Linked DNA regions of Homo sapiens. The protein of the gene in region 2 binds, or shares a complex with, the protein of the main gene of each other region. Each region holds a gene or a part of one and is shown on either strand. Other genes may lie near its edges.

Region 1 (9,658 bases), about 20 Mb from region 2:
CAACCCAGACCCCCAGTGACAGAGGGTGCACGCCGACCAGAGGATCTCACCTCTTTGGGGACCCAAGGAATTCCTGGCACTGCAATAAACTGCAATGCAGGTAGGAGCAAGGCCCACCTCTGCACAGGAGGCAGCTCCGCCCCTCCGCTTCCCTATGTGTGGGGCTGACAAGGGAGTTTTGGGTCATCCAAAATGCCTCCGAGGACATCTGGGCACCTGTCTAACTACTCTCAGAATAACTGAAATGTTTCAAGTTCCACGGTAAGTGGCACGCCTGGAATGCAGGCAGTCCACCTCAGGGGACCTGGCCAACTTCTAACCACAGAGGGTCACCCGCCAAACGAGGCAAAATAAACGCAGAGCTCCAGGACGCAAGGTTACTAAAATACCCCTTTGTTTGACCTTTACTCTTAGAATATTTAATGCCATATCAAACCCAAAACACTAAACACCTAAAGTCTATGTTCAAAAACTCAGTAACCACAAAATAAATGAAGCTTAAGAAAAAAAAAAAAGAAAGAAAGAAAATCATCCGAATTAAAGGGGGCCTTTAAAACCATCCATTTCCCACCTGGAGAGCTGAATTCCGAGGGAAATCACACATGGTCCTGTCTCAAAGAAGAGGTATCTTTTCTGCTCATCTCTGCAGCGATGCTATAGGTTTATGAGGCTGCTTTGGTTTTAAACAGTTCATTAAACTCAAATGGGAATAACGCAATAAATATTTTCCAGGTTGTACAAGACATGCGAGGGCTTGATCTAGCAAATGAGCATGTCCAAATTGCCTGTTTTCTTTAAAGACATTTTTAGTTGGATTCCACCCAGCCAAGTAGAATGTGAAAGACTCACTTTTTGGGAAGCCAAGTACTCCATGCCTCTGGCCAGCTGGTAGGTGCATGACACCAAGTCCTTGAAGGTCATCTGCTCCTCAGGAACACGGTTAATGTCATAGGAGTACTCCATCCCGGGTGGCCTCCGGGCTCGGAGGTATTCTCGGAGGTTGCCTTTAGAGGCATACTCAACTATGACATAGAGAGGCCCTGTTGAGGAAGAAGAGAAGCTCCCTAAAGAGAGAATCCAGGGTCTCCCCTTGGGCAATTCAGCAAAACATTTTTAGTTATTACAACCCATGCTTTTTTTTTTTTTTTTAAAGTTTAACATACAGCGGCTGGGCGTGGTGCCTCATATCTGTAATCCCAGCCCTTACAGAGGCCGAGGCAGGTGGATCACATGAGGCCAGGAGTTCAAGACCAGCCTGGCCAGCATAGCGAAACCTCGTCTCTACTAAAAATACAAAAATTAGCTGGGCATGGTGACACACACCTATAGTCCCAGCTACTTGAGAGGCTGAGACAGGAGAATCGCTTGAACCCAGGAGGTGGAGGCTGTAGTGAGCCGAGATCACACCACTGCACTGCAGCCTAGGCAACAGAGCGAGACTTTGTCTCAAAAAAAAAAAAAAAAAAAGAAGAAGAAAAAAGAAAAAGTTTTAACATACAGAAAAGCACACATAAAAATATGATTATAATCTCTCCAAAATGATAAATAAGCCCTTGGTCATGATAGCCTCAAAAGGCACAGAGACACAGTTGACGTGCTCTTCCCTGTCACTCTCATGCTGTCACCTGCGCCCTCTTGGAAAGCAATGGATCCCTCCACTCTATCCTTTTGGTTCATTTTAACTATTCAATAAGTAATATATTATTTTTAATCACATAAATGAATAATAAAGCTCTTAGATCTTTGCAACATTTTTTACCCATACATTATCCTTTTGGAACCTGTTGGGCTTATAAAAACAAAACCAGATCATTCCTTTTCACAGCTGCATATACTGTATCGTATAAACACACCACACTTTATTTATCCATTCCCTTATATGCATAGGCATTTGCTTCCAGGTTTCAGCCATAACAAACAGTAGGCAATGAACATCTCTGTACATGTTCCCTTACACACGTGTGCAATAATTTCTCCATGGTATAGGCTCGGGGTTGGCAGACTACAGCCTGCAAGCCAAATCCTGCCTACCGCCTGTTTGGGTAATTAAATTTTATTGGCATGCAGCCAGGTCCATTCATTTCTGTACTTCTAGCACTGCTTTCTCACTACTATGGCAGACACGAGAAGTTGCGACAAAGACCATACGGCCCACAAAAGTCTAAAATATCTACGACCTCCCTTTACAGAAAAAGTTCACCAATTACTATATAGACCTACAAGAGAAATTGCTAAGTCAAAGATAGGCGTTTTCAAGTTTACTAATTACTTAGCAAATTGATTTCAAAGTGCCAGTAAACATTCAATGGAAGAAGCCAGGGTCTCTCTCCCCCAGGGAAAATAACGTATTCCTTCATACCGCTTTCTCCTCTTTTAAGCTATTCTTGGGAGCTCAGCCATCTGTGACCCACAGCAAGATGTGGATTCTTCAATCCCTGTTTTAAGGGAAGAACTTCTCAACCAAAACATAGGATCTTATTCTGACAAATCTCTCTTAGCACTTACAAAACAAAAACATAAGGAGGCTGCCTTTTCCAAAACCCCCTCCAGGTTATGACCTAGAAACAGCAGCGCCCTCTAGGCCCTCAAATCCAAAGTCACCTGCACCCTCCTTTCCACTGGCCCCCAGGTACGGGCACAGACCCTTCTTTGTGTTCATGGCTAGGAACATCTTCCAATGGGGATTTTAAAAAGAACTTTAAACATGCACACAGGGTGCTCTGGGAGCAGGATCTGGAAGCCCAGCCATTTCTAAAATGATTCAATCAAACTGCAGAGTATTTGGGCGAATGCAGTTTTTCCTCCTACTCACCATCCTGTGTGCAGGCTCCAAGAAGATTTATGATATTCTTGTGTTTCCCAATCATCTTCATCATCTCCATCTCTGACACCAGATCAGAAAGGTCTTTCTCTGTGGCATCATCTATGAACAGTAGGCATATTCACAAATCAGTTCATTTCCTCTAACTCATGGGCAGCTACTGTTAGTTGCCAAAGACTTAGTTGAAACAGCATGAAATTGAATTTCAGAATCAGAAAAGATTTTCCAAATCATCTCCCTCATTTTATCGAGGAAGGGACAAAGGCCTACACAGGGAACTGCCTCACTCTGTGTCAAAGAGCTCACTGGGGGGCCAATGGGGCCAAGAGTCAGGACGAGAGCAGGGGCTTCTGACACTAATGCCAATTCTTTCCTAGACCATGAGATAATCTCATCCTCTGCCATATCTAAGGCGTCTCAGAAAACCACACCAAACTTCATGGTGCCTGAAACCAGCGAGGAGACCGAGGGTAGGGCCATTTCAAATCACTACAGACTTGCTCCCGACCAAGCATTCTTAACCCAGCCCCTCGAGGCCCTTAGAGCGTTCCGAGGTGGGTTCAGACGGTTCCCCATAAACAGGGCCATAAACGTGTGTGCATGTGCATTCTGAGCAGGTAAAGGGCTGCGACTTCTAGTGGCTTCTCAGAGGGCACTGCAGTTCCCATCCTAAGAAAAGTTACATAAACTTCCGCTCTGTAATTTCAAGCAAGAATGGCACAGGTTCCACATACGCGGGCTCGCAGTTAGCTTCTCTTAGATTCTCCTAAGTGGCAAGACTTTCCCATGTGCCCTCCACCTCAAGCTAATTCAGTATGGAAAAATCTGGGTTTCCTTTAAAAAAAAAATGAAATATGGGCATGGATAAGAACCATGTTGCAAACAGTTTTTTAGCTTCACAAAAGGAAGATCAATACAAGTGACTGTGTGTGCAAAATTTACACTGATGTATGTGAAGGAGGGAGCCACGGGCCATGAGGAGGGAGGGAGACACAGCCGTGGGCTGTAAGAAAGGACACGCCACAATGGCTTGGGGACTAATATCCTTCTGTGTCCTTACAGGGAAGGCTGCCAGCCTGGGCATCACAAGAGAAAGAGAACTCCCAGACCTCCCTTTTTGCAATATCCCATGTAACTCTGAGCTCCATTAGCAAAACCAGAAGTTCCGCCAAAAGAGATGAGAAGCCTGGGTCCTCCCCACACCTGGCCCTGGTACGCAGCCAGGGGCTGCCTCAGTCAGTGGTGCCATGACACCTGGGGCAAGACAGCACAGTGTTCCTCCCCGGCATCAGGCTCCAAGGTGGGGAACATCTCAAAGCACTCTAGTTTTCCTTGGGAGTCACTCAGATAAACAGCCTTTTAAAAAACCCAAAAAACAAAATGCACATCTTGTTGACAAAGTCCAGCCTGCTACTTCCCCTTGGGAGGGATGTGATGACTATCCCATGAGAACCCACAAAAGAAAGACAAAGCCTAACTCCAGAGCGCCTGCGACATGCCCAGCACCATATCCCAAGGATGGGCCTCTCTGCCTGGAAACGTGGGAAACACTCGGCATGGGATCTTCTTTCCGAGATCCCTACAAGAGGATTTATAATGTGACAGTTCCCTATAACTCTTCTCATAAAAGAATACTGCAGGACGAATAAGTTAATGGTTAAAAGTTCTTTAAGTTCTTTGGACATGGGCATGAAGCAGGGTTGGAAGGTTAACGTAGAAGTGTTCACAGTCCCACAAACACAACACGACATTTACATCTCAGGGTAATTGTTTATGTGTCCCAGGAGGCTCTGCACCAGCCCTGATCCTGTTCACTCCTTCTCAGCTTCTAAGTGACTCTCCCAGACCAGTGTCATTTCTGCTTTGTTCCTCACGCAAAAGAGAAGGCTTTCTGCTCCCTTACGTCTCTTCGTTCCCTCCAAAAACACAAATTTTCTTGTACTTGTAAAGTTAAGGTTTAAGTCCCAAATCTAACACACCAACTCCTAGCTAATAAATTCAATTATATGTGAGTTGATAATTTCTAAGCACATAAAAATACAGAGAGAATGAAGAATTGTGGTCACGAAGAAGGAGTCAAAGAATAACTCTATGTAGGAGGCTACCGCTTTCTAACAAAACTGGCTTTTCTTTATAAGTACACACAGCTCAAGATAAATAGTCTGTCCGAGATGCTGATTTATACCGAAAACTTCTCAACCCCTAGGTCAACTATGTGCTCTCTGACCCCGTGCCATGATAGAGTTCACATGCCACAAAAGGAACTTTCTTGATAAGACTCTCCACCCAGCCCCTCCCCGAGCCTCCCGCCTCCCCGCTCACCTTTCAACATCTTCACGGCCACGGTGACCGCCTCCTTGGGCTTGTCTTTGTCAATTCCCACTGCTTCCGCCATGACCACTTGCCCAAAGCAACCTTCTCCCAGGGGCTTGCCCAGTGTCAGCCTAAATGTGTAAATAGGGGATTAGCACATAGCATCTGGTGATGGGGTGTAGTGAGGGAAATTCCAGAACTAAATATAAAAATCTTTCAGCGGCTTACTAAAGCATGGAGTGCTTATCATATGGAACTAATGAGACTTAGGGTACACACGCGCCTGAGTATTTTCCTAGTGACGTTTTAGAGAATGTCAATTACTGGTGGAACGGCTATTAAATTTCACATTGGTATTCTCGGTTTATTTTCTTTAGGGAAGGTATCCTTGCTAGTGCGGTGGTCAGCTTTCCTAAGTGCCAGAGAAGAGCTTTTGATCTTGAGCCAATTAAATATTTGTAATTTAGAATGGCTCAAAGAAAAAACGTTAAGACTGTTCTTATTTTTTTGTCCCTGTAAAATGGTGGCTTTAAAATTATTATTCAAATACCAATGGATTTTATGGTCACATTCCTTGCCAAGTTACAGGATATGCCTCTTAAAAGCATTTCAAGGAATCTCTAATTTTTTACTAAAAAGAAAATTCTAAAAAATTGGGGACTTTTTTTTTGACATAAGTTTAAAAGTCCTTATGACTACATAAAATTAACAATGAAGAAAATCCAAAGTGAACACCACAAATTAAATTTCTAAGATTACAAGGTCTATGCACATCGGACGAATAGCCATATATTGTCCTTGTGCATTCCAGAAACCAACAAAACGCAAAAGTCTTTGGAATACTTATGAATACGGCTCTTTCTAACTTAAGCATAACACAGCAAAGCATGGAGCTGCCATTAGTAAACAGTATTTAAGGTAAGTACACAATAGTTTGCAAAAGTGCAGCATAAAGACTAAGGGCAGCATGTGCTATGCTGAGGTCATTTTGTTTCTACCCAGAACGAAAATTAAATTTAACATCTTGGCAGAAAATAAATATTTGCATTGGAAAAATGGCTAATTTATGTCCCACCGCCTTGCTACTACAAGCATAACAATCCTTTCTTTGTATAACTTCTGCCTCCGATCTAATAAACTGCTTCTAAATAGCCTTCATTCATTGGAAATCTGTTCCACCTACGTTTGCGCTAAACACTGTTTTGAAATGTTTAGCACTCAGATTTTCCACACTCAGGGTACCCCGGGTGGGAGGTAACAGTTGGGCACATACAGACTTCCACTGTTGACTGTGGTGTCACAGGTGGCAAAAACTATGGACTAAACCCGAAAGCTGCAATTTCTTAAAATATGATCACAACTCCCCAGTTCAGTTATATATATAGGAATGTGCACATGAACCTATCTGTGTATATAATCACACACAAACTAGGGCTGGCGGAGTTCACAAGAAACATCCATTTCTCCACATCCTACAGGTAAAGAAACCATTCTTTGTGTTTTCTCTGGTGCCCCACCAGTAAATGTCCAATTAACATGCCTTGAGTGAATGAATAAGTGAATGAGTGAGTGGTCTTTTCACTACAGTATACAAATCAACTGGAAATTACTTCCATTAACACTCTAACCAAATAATATCCATACAATTATTCAGTCCTAGCTAACGGTACACATCTCTAAATTGGCACTTGGGAAACAAAACTGATGTGACATCACGTGAATCAAAATCAGAAGTGCCAGCCACATAAGCTACCTCTCCCTTCCAAATAGAGCTCATCAGATCAGTCTCTGGAAGAGCTTATCTTTGCATTTCCAAATGTGTATAGGTACACATGAGAAGTGTATATAATCTGAGGAGCTACTGAAAATGTCAAGGCAAACAGGGTAGCTGCTTATAAGCAAGTCAAGAGCTTATTCCAGTGTATGTGATGCAGAAGTAGTCAGCATTTCCACCTTCCCGTACTCTCAAGCTGTGACGACAAAAAGTACCCCAGAAGTGAGTGGACAGCCCTACAATGACCACTGCACTTCCTTTCATAAGGAGGATCTAGGGGTCGGTCCCTGCCTAGAGGACGAGGGCTAGGAGCTCAAATTCTGCCCACTGACTCCATGCCCCACACGATGATCCTGCTGAGGTTTGCAGTTCAGAGCTCCCAGGTTACCACCACGTGAAGGGAAATGAAAGGAAAACTCGCACAAGCCAAGAACTCTGCTCAGTCCTGGGAGGTCTGAACCACCACCCTCATTTTATGAGAATGAATTTCAGAGAATCAGGTGCCTCACCCGAGGTTGCCCAGCCACTGTCTGGCAAAGCCAGGATTCAAATGCAGCCCAACGGAGCTCCAGTACGTGGAGTTCAAGCGAGACCAAGAGATACGTAGCCCCAACACCACCCAGGTGGCCATATTTTGACTAAACATCTGATTGGCACACCTCTGTATCATCCAACAAGGAAAATATTATGGATCACAGAAATTAGATGTCAGGTACCATATTTGAAGCTTTTCAGCCCAATATGACATTAATAACCAATGAGAACAGCAACACTGGGTAGCGGTCCTTAAGGCCATTTATATTCTGCATCTAATTTCTCCACAGAAGTGAACAGAGAACAGTCTTGTTCTAGTAACCAAAAGCTAGAATGTCAGATCTGTTTTATAAATTGGATAATTCTACTTTTATTCCATTTGACGGAGTCTGAATTGCCCAGACACTTAAAAAATGATAACCAGATGCCATCTTCTTTGGGGACCAGCCAGGGGCAAGTAGCTCTGCTTTCAAGGAGTTATTTTTTTTTTTAAATCCATTTTTTTCTTTTCCAGGAGTTGGTTATTTAGAAATACAATCTTACTCCTGCTGACATCATCACACCAAGACCTTTGTGGCTAAGGGTCATAAAAAGAAAATGTTAATCCAATATCCCCATTTATAGCTGAGTCTCCATCCTGGGACATGGCCAAGAGAAGTACTCACTTATCTCTTGGAAACTCCCATTTTGGGTCCTCTGGAAGTTCATACTCGGAGACCCCTGCCAGCATGGGGGTGTCTGCCGTTGAAGAGAGGCGTGTTGTTATCCTCACCAGCGGGGTGTTGGAGTTCATGGAGGAGCTGGACTCAGCCGAAACCTGGATACAAAATGCAAAGACACAGATGTAATCCTGGCTCCATCTGAGAAGGCTGGAAGTCAGCCAGAGCCCAGCCAGAGTATCGAATCTTAGAAAGGAATGGGTTGGGGGCTGGCAGAAGTCAGAAACCAAATTAGAAAACCACTGGAATCTAACTCCTCTGCCCTCCAGTCCATGCAGTACCAGATTTCATCCAAATTTTATGTTCCTATGTTCAGGTTTTTCTATGAAATTTTTCTATACCATCTGATCACAATGTAAATTTTCTTTCTGTCCTAATTCCTCCAGAGAGTCACTTGAGGACATGCAGACAGTCCTCTCTGGCTTCATTAGTGCCTTTATGGTTGTACCTGCACCTGTACTGGAGCCCTGGATAATGGATCCCCTCTCAGACCACCCGGATCATGGATCAATGCTGTGCTTATGAAATTCTACGAAAACTTTTAGGAAATTGGCTCTACCATATTTCCTCTGTCTTTGGAAATGTAAAGTGGAATATCTCAAGGAAAGAGTTCTAGGACTTGAATGTGGAAGACATTCAGTAGCTCCGAGTCCCTTTAACTCAAAATAACCCCAGACCCCAGCATTGGGGGCCATTCTTTGTTTCTCCCCAGTCCTTCTGGAAACTTATTGATGGCCAGGCTATTCAGTGGAAATGGGCTGCCTCTTGTCTTCGGTTTCAGAAACCAGTGCACTAAACACGTGGGATGAAGCATCAATGGAAAGAAAATACACCTTTTCCCATAACCACACAAGAGAACTCCTCTCCCACCTGGCAGTACACAGGGCTCCACCGAGTTACTTTCTTGTTTATCCTGATCCATTTCAGTGTGTCTGATAAAATGATTATTTCTTAAATATATCACTGTCCTTTGGCTGGTTTCTATGGAAAAAAAAAGACTCACACAGAGCACACTGGAAGGCCACTTTTGAGGATGACTACGCAATCTTAGTCTGACCACAGGCTGCTTGAACACTGTCTTATTCTAAACCATGAACAAGACTTTGGCCCAAGAGAACAAGAATGTGAAGTTAACCACGATCCATCTCCAAGCAGGCAACTAGCCCACCCTGGGCTCTGTCTCCTGCGTGACTGCCCAGGTGGATAGTACTCCTGGATGTGCTTACAAACGCCTTCAATCACACTGGCAAAGACTGAGTCCAGATGAACAAATTTAGGTGGGATGAACTTTCACAGGGTGGGTCCTGGGCTCTTCTCACAGGGAACCAGAGGACCTGTCCTGTTTGAAAAGCTTTGAATCTCGCCTTTGTAAACCCAGACTTCCCTCAAAGCAGGCTGGAAATTCAAGAAGATGCCCAAGAATAGATTAGGGGAAGAAAATCATTTTAGGATTAGGAAGTTGTTTTCAGTATTAAAATAAAGAAGTGGGCCATTTTT
Region 2 (9,466 bases):
TCTACCCTCATGGCCCTGGGCTAGGACCTGGGGCCTGGGCCCCAGTTGCCTTGCTGGAAGGGGACCTCCCAACACTCAGCCCATTCCCAGTCTCTGCAGGTGGGAGAGGGTCATCGCAGGAGGTTATCAGCATCCAAACAAGGGGTCTGGGCCTCTGTCAGCACTCGGCTGATGGGCAGGGGGGCAGATAAGCGAGCTTAGGCAGCCTGAGGAATGCGCGTCCCTAGCCCCACGAGGGTCTCTGGCCCAGAGAGGGCCTGTGAGGGCAGGGCGGGACCAGGCTTCGCTCCTCCTTTGAGCCTTGCAGGCTGTCTCTGAGCAGGGCTGGGCCCTTAGAGAAACCTGACTCCGGGGGCCAGATGGAGGGGACTGGCCAGATTGGGTGACAGGGAAACCAGAATCCGGGTGGCCTGGCATATGGGGGCAGAAAGGGGCCCCAGGGAATTTGCCTCCTGGACTAAGGGATTCTTGTCCCCCACACACCGTGGGGTCTGGGGGTCTTTGGTGCCTGGAATCAGGTAGTTCTGGCACTTGGCTGCCTTTGTGCCAGGAAGAACTGACACACCTGGTTTGAGGATGAGTGTATGTGACCAGCTCTGGGGTCAGCAGTTCAGCAGCTGTGTTGGTTGTGGGGGGAGGGTTGTCAATGCCCACAAACAAACAAACAAACAAAACATTGCCTCCCCAGACAACCTGGGGCCAGACAGGCTGAGGATAGACAGAGAACAGGGCCTGATGGGGGTCAGGCCAACTCCCACTCCCAGCCTCTAGTCAAGGGGGAGGGGCCCCGGGATATCGCGGGCTGGTGGTTCTGGGGCAGGTGAGGTCAGCTTTGAAGACCTTGCGTCCGCAGTACCGACCCGCACGCTCTTCAGCGCATCCCTAGTGAAGGAGGTTCTCCCCCAGCCCGTGGTGAGGAACTAGGGGTCCAGTTTCCAACCTCCCTCTTCCTCAAGTTGAGGACAAAGGGAGATGACGCCCGTCTGTGTTGCGGTGATCTGGGTCGCAGGCGCCTTTCTCCGATCCAGGAGGGCGCTGCTAAAAATGCTTCCCTGGGGAGCCCGGCGGAGGGGCGGCCTGGCTGGGAACCATGGGTCTCGCTGCGGAGCGCGGTCGGCAGGGAGAGGGAAGTCGGGGCTGGCGCCCTCTGGCGGGCGAGGTTGAAGCCGCTCGTGGTCGTACCGCTTCCCTGGCCTCTAGAGGCTCCGGGCGGGCGCCGTGGGGCCGGGGCCTCCGAGTCCCGCCACTGCTCTGGGCGGCCGAATCTTGGGCGGAAGGCGGGGGAATGCCACTGAGGCTTGCATGCATGCGTGCATACGTTCATTCATTCATTCGAACGACTTGAGTTGGAGTGGGGAAGTCTGGCTGTGGCCCTCACTCCTCTTTCCCTTCCTCTTCTTGGCCCCAGCCTCCAAAGTCCTCGGCACGTGCTTGGCAGGAGGAGCGGGAGACTGGCTGAGTCCTCTCTCCTGGGAGGCCTCCCTAGCTGACCCATCTACCCCCTGCGCGGCTCCGCCCCAATATTTACCCCACCCACCCCCCGCGATGCCACTGATCGCTCCTTGCATTTCTCGCCGGTTTTCCGGGTAGGTCTCCCGGTGGGCGCGGGCCTGCGCCGAGCACGCTCCTGCCCGCAGTGGGGGCCCAATCCACATCAGCCTCTCGGCCCAAGAGTTTCTCGGCCGGTTGGGGCGCCCCGCGGACACAGCTGGGCAAGGTTTATTCCTCTCTCCTCGCCCCAGCCTCTCCTCGAGCCCTCTTCTTTGCCCTTCAGCGCACAGTAGGAGCGCTGCCGGCTCACTGTGGCCTCAGACCCCTGGGGGATGAAGGCATACGCCGGGGTTTGCCGACTGCTGGAGGAAGGGCAGGCTTCTATTTGGGGGCCGAGGGAGACGACTCCCAGACAGTGGCCGAAGTGCTTAACGTAGTCTCGGCGATTTGCATTTGAACGGTCGGCAGTGAGTCCGCGGCGCTTTGAACGCCCGGCGCAGGAAGCGCGCGTCGGAGCGAGCTGCGGTCTCCGGCGGGTGTGGATTGGAGGGGCCGGGGGATGGGCTGGGATCGAGGGGTGCGTTTGGAAATAGGCTGAAGTAGTGTGTCTGGGTGCAGGCGAGGGCGTGTCTGCGGAGATGGGCCGTTTGTGTTGGCGAGGAGTGTGTGTTTGTGTTTGCAGGCGAGGGAGTTTGTGTCTGTGCGTGTGTGTGTTTGTGTTTGCGGAGTGTGGGGGCGGCCAGGAAAGGTGGCCGGGCTGTCACTCAGCGATCAGGTTGACAGGCGCTCCCTCATCTGGGCCAGGGAGCTCTGATTGCAGATTCGAGGAAACAAAATAGCAATTGTAATTACCGGGCTTTGATAAGATAAAGGAGGGAGGGAGCTGGCCGGGAGGCGGGCGAGCCAGCAAGGGAGGGAGCGGCCTGCGGGGGCCCGGCGGGACATTTGCATCTGTCAGTCACGGGGCGTGCCAGGGCAGAGCCAGGTGCTTGCTCCCGGGGTGTCCCCATCTGCTCCTCTCCCCCAGAGAAACGGACTTTTGGGGAGATGAGAATTTCAACGAACTAGGTGAGGGTCCGCTTCTCAGGAGGGTCTCCAAATCCAAATGTAAAGGAATCCTGGTCCAGCACAGGCTCCCTGGCAGAGGCTGGGACAGGACTGAAACTTGACCTCGGACCCTTCAGATCCCAGGACGCCCATCTTCTCTGGGGCAGAGGAAGAAGGGTGGCTGAAGACCATTGAGGGTCAACCCAGGGCCCTCAGAATCTTCTGGGGGTTCCACAGCTGGAGCTGAATGCTGGTCTCAGCCAGGGGCTCTGCCCCTACCCCCATTCCAGGGAGGGGCAGGTACCCAGAGTGGCTCTGGCTGTGACCCCAGGACCATGCAAACACTGTTGGATGGGCGGGTCACCCTCACCCCTGCCTGGGGCCTACTCCCTGCTCTGCTTATCTCACTGATGTTCAGAGAGTCCATGGTGGGAGAAAGCCCATTTCTTACAGGAAGTGCCTGCTCTCCATCTCTCCATTCAATCATTTGTTCATCGACATACGCAACTAAACATGCTTGAGGGCCTACTGTGTACAAGGATGAGGGTAAGACCACAAGCAAACAGACATAACCTTTGCCCACTTGAAGCAGTGCAGAGAGGGAAACAGACACTCAATGAATTGTGACTCAGGCCTTACACAGAACACAGGGAAGGCAAGGGCTGGCCTGGGCTGTGGCCACTTGTGTCCACCTGACTTGTCTCCGCCTGATGGACCCACCTCCCCATGGGCTTTAGAGGAGACAGTGCCTGCCAAGCCTGTGGCAGATACAAGTGCTCACTAACTGGTGGTGTTCCTGGTGATAATCTGTTGGGAGGAGGTGAAGGCAGGTCTTCCTGGGGAAGTTGCAAATAGGCTGAAGTCTACAGGCTCAGCCACTTCCCCCATCATTCATTCATTCATTCATTCAACGAACTCTTAATTGCAGAACAGCTCTGCCCAGCCTTGTGCCACGAGCTGTGATTTCTGAGCTCATAAGACATGGTCCTTGTGGGCAAGGTCTGTGTGGGCAAGAGCCCACTGAACAGACTCCTGGAGGAGGATGGCAAGTGTGCTCTGGAAGTCTACTTCTCTGAGGAGGGATAAGATCTTGGAACGCACCCTCTAACTGTTTTCCCATCTCTCCATTGCTCAGTGTTTGCATTTATGGCTGGGAGTTGGAAAGATGGGGCACAGGGAAAGGTGGGACACAGAGCAGGGAGGGAGGCAGGGCCTGGCTGTGCTGCTGGACTAGGGCTGCCGCTAATTTTGGCCTAATGGCTTCCTGGGACCACACCAAACCCTCCAGCCCTACCCCCAGGGGAATGGAGGGTCACTGGGGAAGGGGAGGTTGTAAGTGAAGACAGCAGTCTGGTAGGGCATCACCTGCTCCTCACAAGGCACCTGTCCCAGAGCATCTCTGTCCACCCAGGCTGCTCCCACAGAAGCAGCATGGGGGCTCAGGGTTTCCAGAAACCTCAGGGGGGAAGCCACAAGGTGGGGGGCTAGGAAAGGCTTAGACAAGTGCCTACCTTCTCCTATGCCCCAAGCCCAGCTGACCAGCCCCTGCCTAGAATACAGTAGGTGTGTAAATACCTGTGAAATGAAAAACGAGTGGGGCTTTGAGGGGGAAAGGGCTGGGTGGCCTGGATGGAAGTCCCTTCCCCCAGTAAAAGCTACTGAGAGTTTTTTTGCCCCTGCTGCCTGCTGAGGTACGGGGACAGTGGGTCCTGCCAGGGACCTCCGGACTCTCTCTTCCACACAGGTGGCTCGGGGTGCTCCTCAAGCTTCAGGCTAGTGTGTGTGTGTGTGTGTGTGTGTGTGTGTGTGTGTGTGGTGAGGGGCACAGGGGAAGGGGTGATAGTGATAATGGGATGGGGGGAGGGGGAGGCATTTCTGGCTCCCAGGGCCTCCTCGGGAGAGTGAAGGAGACTGGAGAGACCGACAGGACGGGGCACGCGGCCGAAACAGGGGAGCGGGGTCCGGGTGGCACCGGCACGCACTGCGCGAGGGCCGGGTGCGCAGCCATTCGCTGCATGGTTAGCGGCCGCTCCCAGGGGCCCGGCGGGACACACAGTAGGTGGCTCGGAGACCACTGCGTAGCCGGCGGCGGAAGCGGCTGGGCCCGGAGGCGGAGACCCAGACCCGCCAGACTCGGGCGCTCCAGGCGGTCGGGGAAGCCCAGGCTCGGGGTCTCCCGGCCCGCAGAGTTTGCAGCCCTAGGCGCCCCCATCCCCGCGCGTCCGGGACCGGGGAGCGCGCGAGGGGACAGGCCGGGGATAGGGGGAGGCGCCCAGACCGGCCGCCCCCGCCCCTCCCGCGGGTCCCCAGACCCCTCCCCTAGCCCAGACCCTCAATCCCGAACCCGTCGGCCGCCCCTCCCCGGCCGCCCCGCCCCCGCCCCGGGCTGCATCCAGGCCCCAGTTCCCAGCCGGGGGCTGCGGGCTCCCGCCGCCCGCCCCGCGCTCCCCCCTCGCGCCCGGTGCGGCGCCCCCCGCCCCCACCCCTCCCCGCCCTCCCACCTCCCCACCCACCCCGCCAGCCCGTGACCCTCCCGCCCGCTCCGGCTCCCGAGCAGCCAGCGGCCACCGGCTCCGGCAGCGGCGCACAGCGATTCGGTGCGGCGCGGCGAGCACGACGTTCCACGGGACCCGCGGAGCCGCGTCGTGATCGCCGCCGGCCTCCCGCACCCGCACCCTCTCCGCTCGCGCCCTGCTCAGCGCGTCCTCCCGCGGCGGCCCGCGGGACGGCGTGACCCGCCGGGCTCTCGGTGCCCCGGGGCCGCGCGCCATGGGCAGCCCCCGCTCCGCGCTGAGCTGCCTGTGAGTACCGCGCCGCCCTGCCCCGCCACCCGCCCCCCGCGCCCCTCGCCTCACCCGCGCCTCTCTCTCCCGCCCGCTTTTGTCTCCCACAGGCTGTTGCACTTGCTGGTCCTCTGCCTCCAAGCCCAGGTGAGGAGGGGTGCGCGGAGGCGGGGGCCGGGCGCGCCGGTGTGAGACCCGGGTGGGCAGCGCCGGTCGGGGGCACCGGGACTGACTCTGCGGCCGGCGCGGGAGGGCTGAGGGCACCTTAGAAACCCAGCCCCGAGCCACCCCGAGGAGGGAGCTGAGGCACAGAGAGGTAGCACCCCTCCTGAGGTCACACAGCGAGTGAGTGGCCAGGATAGAAACGAAGGTCTCGGAGCCCAGCACTGTCCCCCATGCATCCTCGCCGGCTGGGGGCATAGGGAACACCCAGCCGCCGAGGAAGGGGGCAGCCGCGGCCAGGGGATGGATGTTCGATGCCAGGGGAAGCCGGGTGACTGCAGCAGAGACCCTCTCAGCGCCCCTCGGGGGAGGCTTGTGGCCGATTTGGCCCAATGATCGGGTGCCCAGGTTCCCTGCACTCTCAACATTTGCTCCGTAAATTTGTCTTTATAAATGTCAGGGGTCGGGGAGGGCTGCCTCCCTACTTAAAAGCGCCCTGCTCCTCTAGGAAGGCCCGGGCAGGGGCCCTGCGCTGGGCAGGGAGCTCGCTTCCCTGTTCCGGGCTGGCCGGGAGCCCCAGGGTGTCTCCCAACAGGTGGGTCCAGCTTCTCCCTGGGGCTCGTTCATCCTGGGCTGGGTCTGCCCGACTTGCGTGGGTGGGGGATGGTGGCCTGGGCTGGCATGTTGGGGGAACCCCCAGCACCTGCTGGCGGCTTGGGGCAGTGAGGGGGACGCAGGGTGATGGGGCCACTCGGGCCCCTGGGCGGAGTAGCATTATAATGGTGTATTGTGTATTTTTCAATTTCCTAAAGGTAACTGTTCAGTCCTCACCTAATTTTACACAGCATGTGAGGGAGCAGAGCCTGGTGACGGATCAGCTCAGCCGCCGCCTCATCCGGACCTACCAACTCTACAGCCGCACCAGCGGGAAGCACGTGCAGGTCCTGGCCAACAAGCGCATCAACGCCATGGCAGAGGACGGCGACCCCTTCGGTAAGGCGCGCTGAAGGTAGCTTGTGGGATGCGCGGCGCCTGGACCACCAGTCCCAACTGCACTGGCCGGGGGCCTGCAGGGTCCCCAGCTCAGAAGGGAAGGAGTTAAGGCAGAAAGGTGTCTTGAGGGTCAGCTGGGGAAGAGAGGGCTAGGGAAGGGGCCTCGGGGAGTACTTGGCCACAGGTGCCCCCTTCCCTGCCCAGCAAATGAATGAATCTAGGAATCTCCCTTTACACCTCCCCCCTTCATACACTCCTCCCCAGCTGCAGGTGGAGGCAGGGGGTTCAGGGGGAGGGGGCCTAGGTTTAAGGCAAGCGCTTGAAAGAGGATATGTCGCCAGGGCCCACAAAAGGAGAGTGGGAAAGAGAAGGGAGAGAAATCCCCTCAACTCTCCCAGTTGGAAAAGGAGGTTGCTGGGAACCCTTAAATACTTTAATCGGATGGGTCAATTTACACGTGGAAACTGGGCTTGGAAGGGGGCTCTCCCTGCTCCATTCCCTGGGGAACCCAGGCGGCTGGGGCAGGGCTCCCGGCTCCCTGTGGGGTGGCAAGTGCGGAGAGCTACTGCCGGCAGAGAGGCTGAGGACTGATTGATTTCTAAAACATTCAATATTCCTGCCTTGAAACGGGGCCAATTTCCAGAGTCCTGGATGTACCAAGAGAAAAGCAAGCCCTCTGGGCGGCTGGTGTTGTTTTTAGAGAGCGATTATTGTGAGTTTAAAAACCTTTAAATAATGACCACGTTAAACAAGCATGAAAGGAGAGGGGAAGACTCTATTAAAATGTAATAAAAAGGTGAGGCATTTTAAGAGCTAAGAAGAAAAATGAAGAATGATATAAAACAGAAAAAGAACGAGCTTTTTTTCAGATGTGGAGTTTGAAAGGAGTTGCAAGTCTGTAAATGTTAAAAAAGAGGTTCAAGATTGTTCTCTCTGAATCTCTGGAGAGACCCCTGCGTCTGGCAGAGCGATTAAAACTCTTCTTACTTTCACCTTTTTTAACATTTCCTGAATACTTTCTCCTCTTCTTGAGCCAGTTTGGGGGATCGAGTATGTCTCGCTGCATTTTTTCTGCATCGACGTAGCTGACTTCCCTTCAAAGCTGGAGGAGACATAATTTTCCTGGGATAAATCTGTCACTGGGGTGGAAGAATAGGTTTGAAAATGTTAAGCTTTCCAAAAGCCCGGTCGGGAGAGCTGCCGTAAACTGCGGCCCCAGCTCCCCAGATCGGAGCAGATTCAACCGACATGGGAGAGAGCGGGCTTTCTGGGGTGGGGGTGGGGGCGGCCTGCCTGGTGGCCGAGCTCCCCTACTGGGCTGGCAGAGCAGGCCTACCATCCCTTTGTCCCTCCAAATTAGCTGCTTGCTGCCCTTCTCAGCTTCTAAGGAGAGGAGACGAATGCCTGGCTCTTCCAGGGTTTGCTCTGTCAGAGCAAATGGCCCAGCATCCTTGGATTTCGGGGAGGGAAGCAGAAGTCAAGCTGGTGTGGGGGAATTCATCTTCAGACATCAGAGGAAGCCTGATGTCCACTTCTCTCCGTGGCCATATAAGAGGTTTCCCGCCTTCCCTAGTCCCTGCCCCACAGCAGGATAGGAGCTGGAGGCCCTAAGAACAGAGGCTCAGGGTGTTCAGCCAGGACAGGAGTAGTCCGGGGAGAATAGCAGAGAGGTCTCAATGGCTTCTTTACCGGCCCCAGGAAGATGCAGAGGCACCTACTTCATCCCTGCCTGCCGCATCTGGCCAGAATCCCCAGAGTGGCATCCTCTCACTCCTCCAGTCAGCATCCTTCCTGGCCCTTAAAAATAGCTGCCTCTTGCTGTGGAAGGCAGAGCGGGAGAGGGATGAGCAGACTGGCTAGGTCCAGGAGGAGGTGGGCAGGCAGGGAGGTGACAGCTGCATTTCCCTGCTGACTTGGGGCCAAACCGGGGGCTTGGCCACTGGTCCCAGCACTGAGCCTGTGTGAAGCGGGGAACATTACAAGCTGAGCAGTGATGACTGACTTGCTGACCTCGATGCCCCAAACCCCTGCCATGGGTTTCAGGGACAGAGGAGGTGCCATATGTCAATGCAGGCTAAGTCCAAGAACTGCTTTCTCAGGGAGGGGAGAGGCTGGGCTCTGCGGCAGGGACGGCAGGAGAGCCAGCGCCTTCTGTCCCTTCCTAAACAGTGAAGTCACCCTCACTACTTTCTTGAGGACAGCCTATAAGAGATGATTGCACAGAGAGGTGAACAGGACAGGCTTCTGTGGCAAGTTGGCTGTCTAAGGGGAGGGGAATGGGAAAGGAGGCATAGAATTCAGCCCTGCCTCCTGGCCTCCAGTCTAAGAGGCCAGCAGGCAGGATTCTCCCTCCTCCTCACCCACAGAAGCTATTTGGTCACTGGGCTGAGAAGCCCAGCTGTGATGAGGCTGAAAGAGAAAAGACAATTGAGTTGTTGATTTCTAGACACTGGGCTGGGGACCCTGGTGACTGGGAAGCCACAGGGAAGAGGCAGGATCCTCCTGGCAGGTGTCTGAGGTTCTGGGAAAGCAGCCTGCTTTGGGCTGTGTGTTTAGGGAGAGCTGTCCCCATCCCTAGCACCTTCTCAGCAGAGCAGAGCCTGGTGATGTTGAGGGGCTGGGGGTGGCCAAAGCTGTGAGTTAGAACCCAAAGTGGCAGAAACAGGAGACAATGCTTTCATCTTTGGCCTTGGGACTGGAGGTCACCCCTTCACCCAAGTGTTTGTAATGACCTGTGAGACACGCACACATAATATTTGGAGTTGGAAGGATCCTCGGAGATCTTTTGATTAGCTATGGAACTCTGATTCAATTAAATTTTACTTAGATCCTCAATCTAAGAGACATCACTGTCTGGTTTAAAAAGAGGGTGGAAGGAATGGCACTTCAGCCTTTTCAATTTGATAGTCCCAAGACCTCTCTTGAGAACCCAGTTTGAAAACCATAATCCCGTCCACTGCCCTCTGTAAACCCAGGGGTGGGGCCCGAGG

The links.
Region 1: the proteins of FGF8 (region 2) and FGFR2 are in contact, whole or in part, in a crystal structure (PDB 2FDB), measured with the Homo sapiens proteins. Residues at the interface, in NP_149354.1 of Homo sapiens: His53, Val54, Gln57, Asp62, Leu64, Ser65, Arg66, Leu68, Ile69, Arg70, Tyr72, Tyr75, Arg77, Gly80, His82, Val106, Glu107, Thr108, Thr110, Phe111, Gly112, Ser113, Val115, Thr148, Glu149, Ile150, Val151, Leu152, Glu153, Asn154; in NP_000132.3 of Homo sapiens: Glu160, Lys161, Glu163, Lys164, Leu166, His167, Ala168, Val169, Pro170, Asn173, Asp247, Val249, Arg251, Ser252, Ser282, Asp283, Ala284, Gln285, Pro286, His287, Ile288, Gln289, Ile291, His293, Leu309, Val311, Leu312, Lys313, Ala314, Ala315.

What each region holds. Positions count from the first base shown.
Region 1 is NC_000010.11:121,495,683-121,505,340, forward strand, and holds part of FGFR2 (fibroblast growth factor receptor 2 isoform 1 precursor), read right to left. Parts: intron 8,260-9,658; coding exon 8,108-8,259; intron 5,266-8,107; coding exon 5,144-5,265; intron 2,924-5,143; coding exon 2,813-2,923; intron 1,041-2,812; coding exon 850-1,040; intron 1-849. UniProt on the Homo sapiens protein: Tyrosine-protein kinase that acts as a cell-surface receptor for fibroblast growth factors and plays an essential role in the regulation of cell proliferation, differentiation, migration and apoptosis, and in the regulation of embryonic development.
Region 2 is NC_000010.11:101,771,742-101,781,207, reverse strand, and holds the start of FGF8 (fibroblast growth factor 8 isoform F precursor), read left to right. Parts: upstream 1-5,093; 5' UTR 5,094-5,307; coding exon 5,308-5,339; intron 5,340-5,431; coding exon 5,432-5,468; intron 5,469-5,991; coding exon 5,992-6,078; intron 6,079-6,295; coding exon 6,296-6,476; intron 6,477-9,466. UniProt on the Homo sapiens protein: Plays an important role in the regulation of embryonic development, cell proliferation, cell differentiation and cell migration. Required for normal brain, eye, ear and limb development during embryogenesis.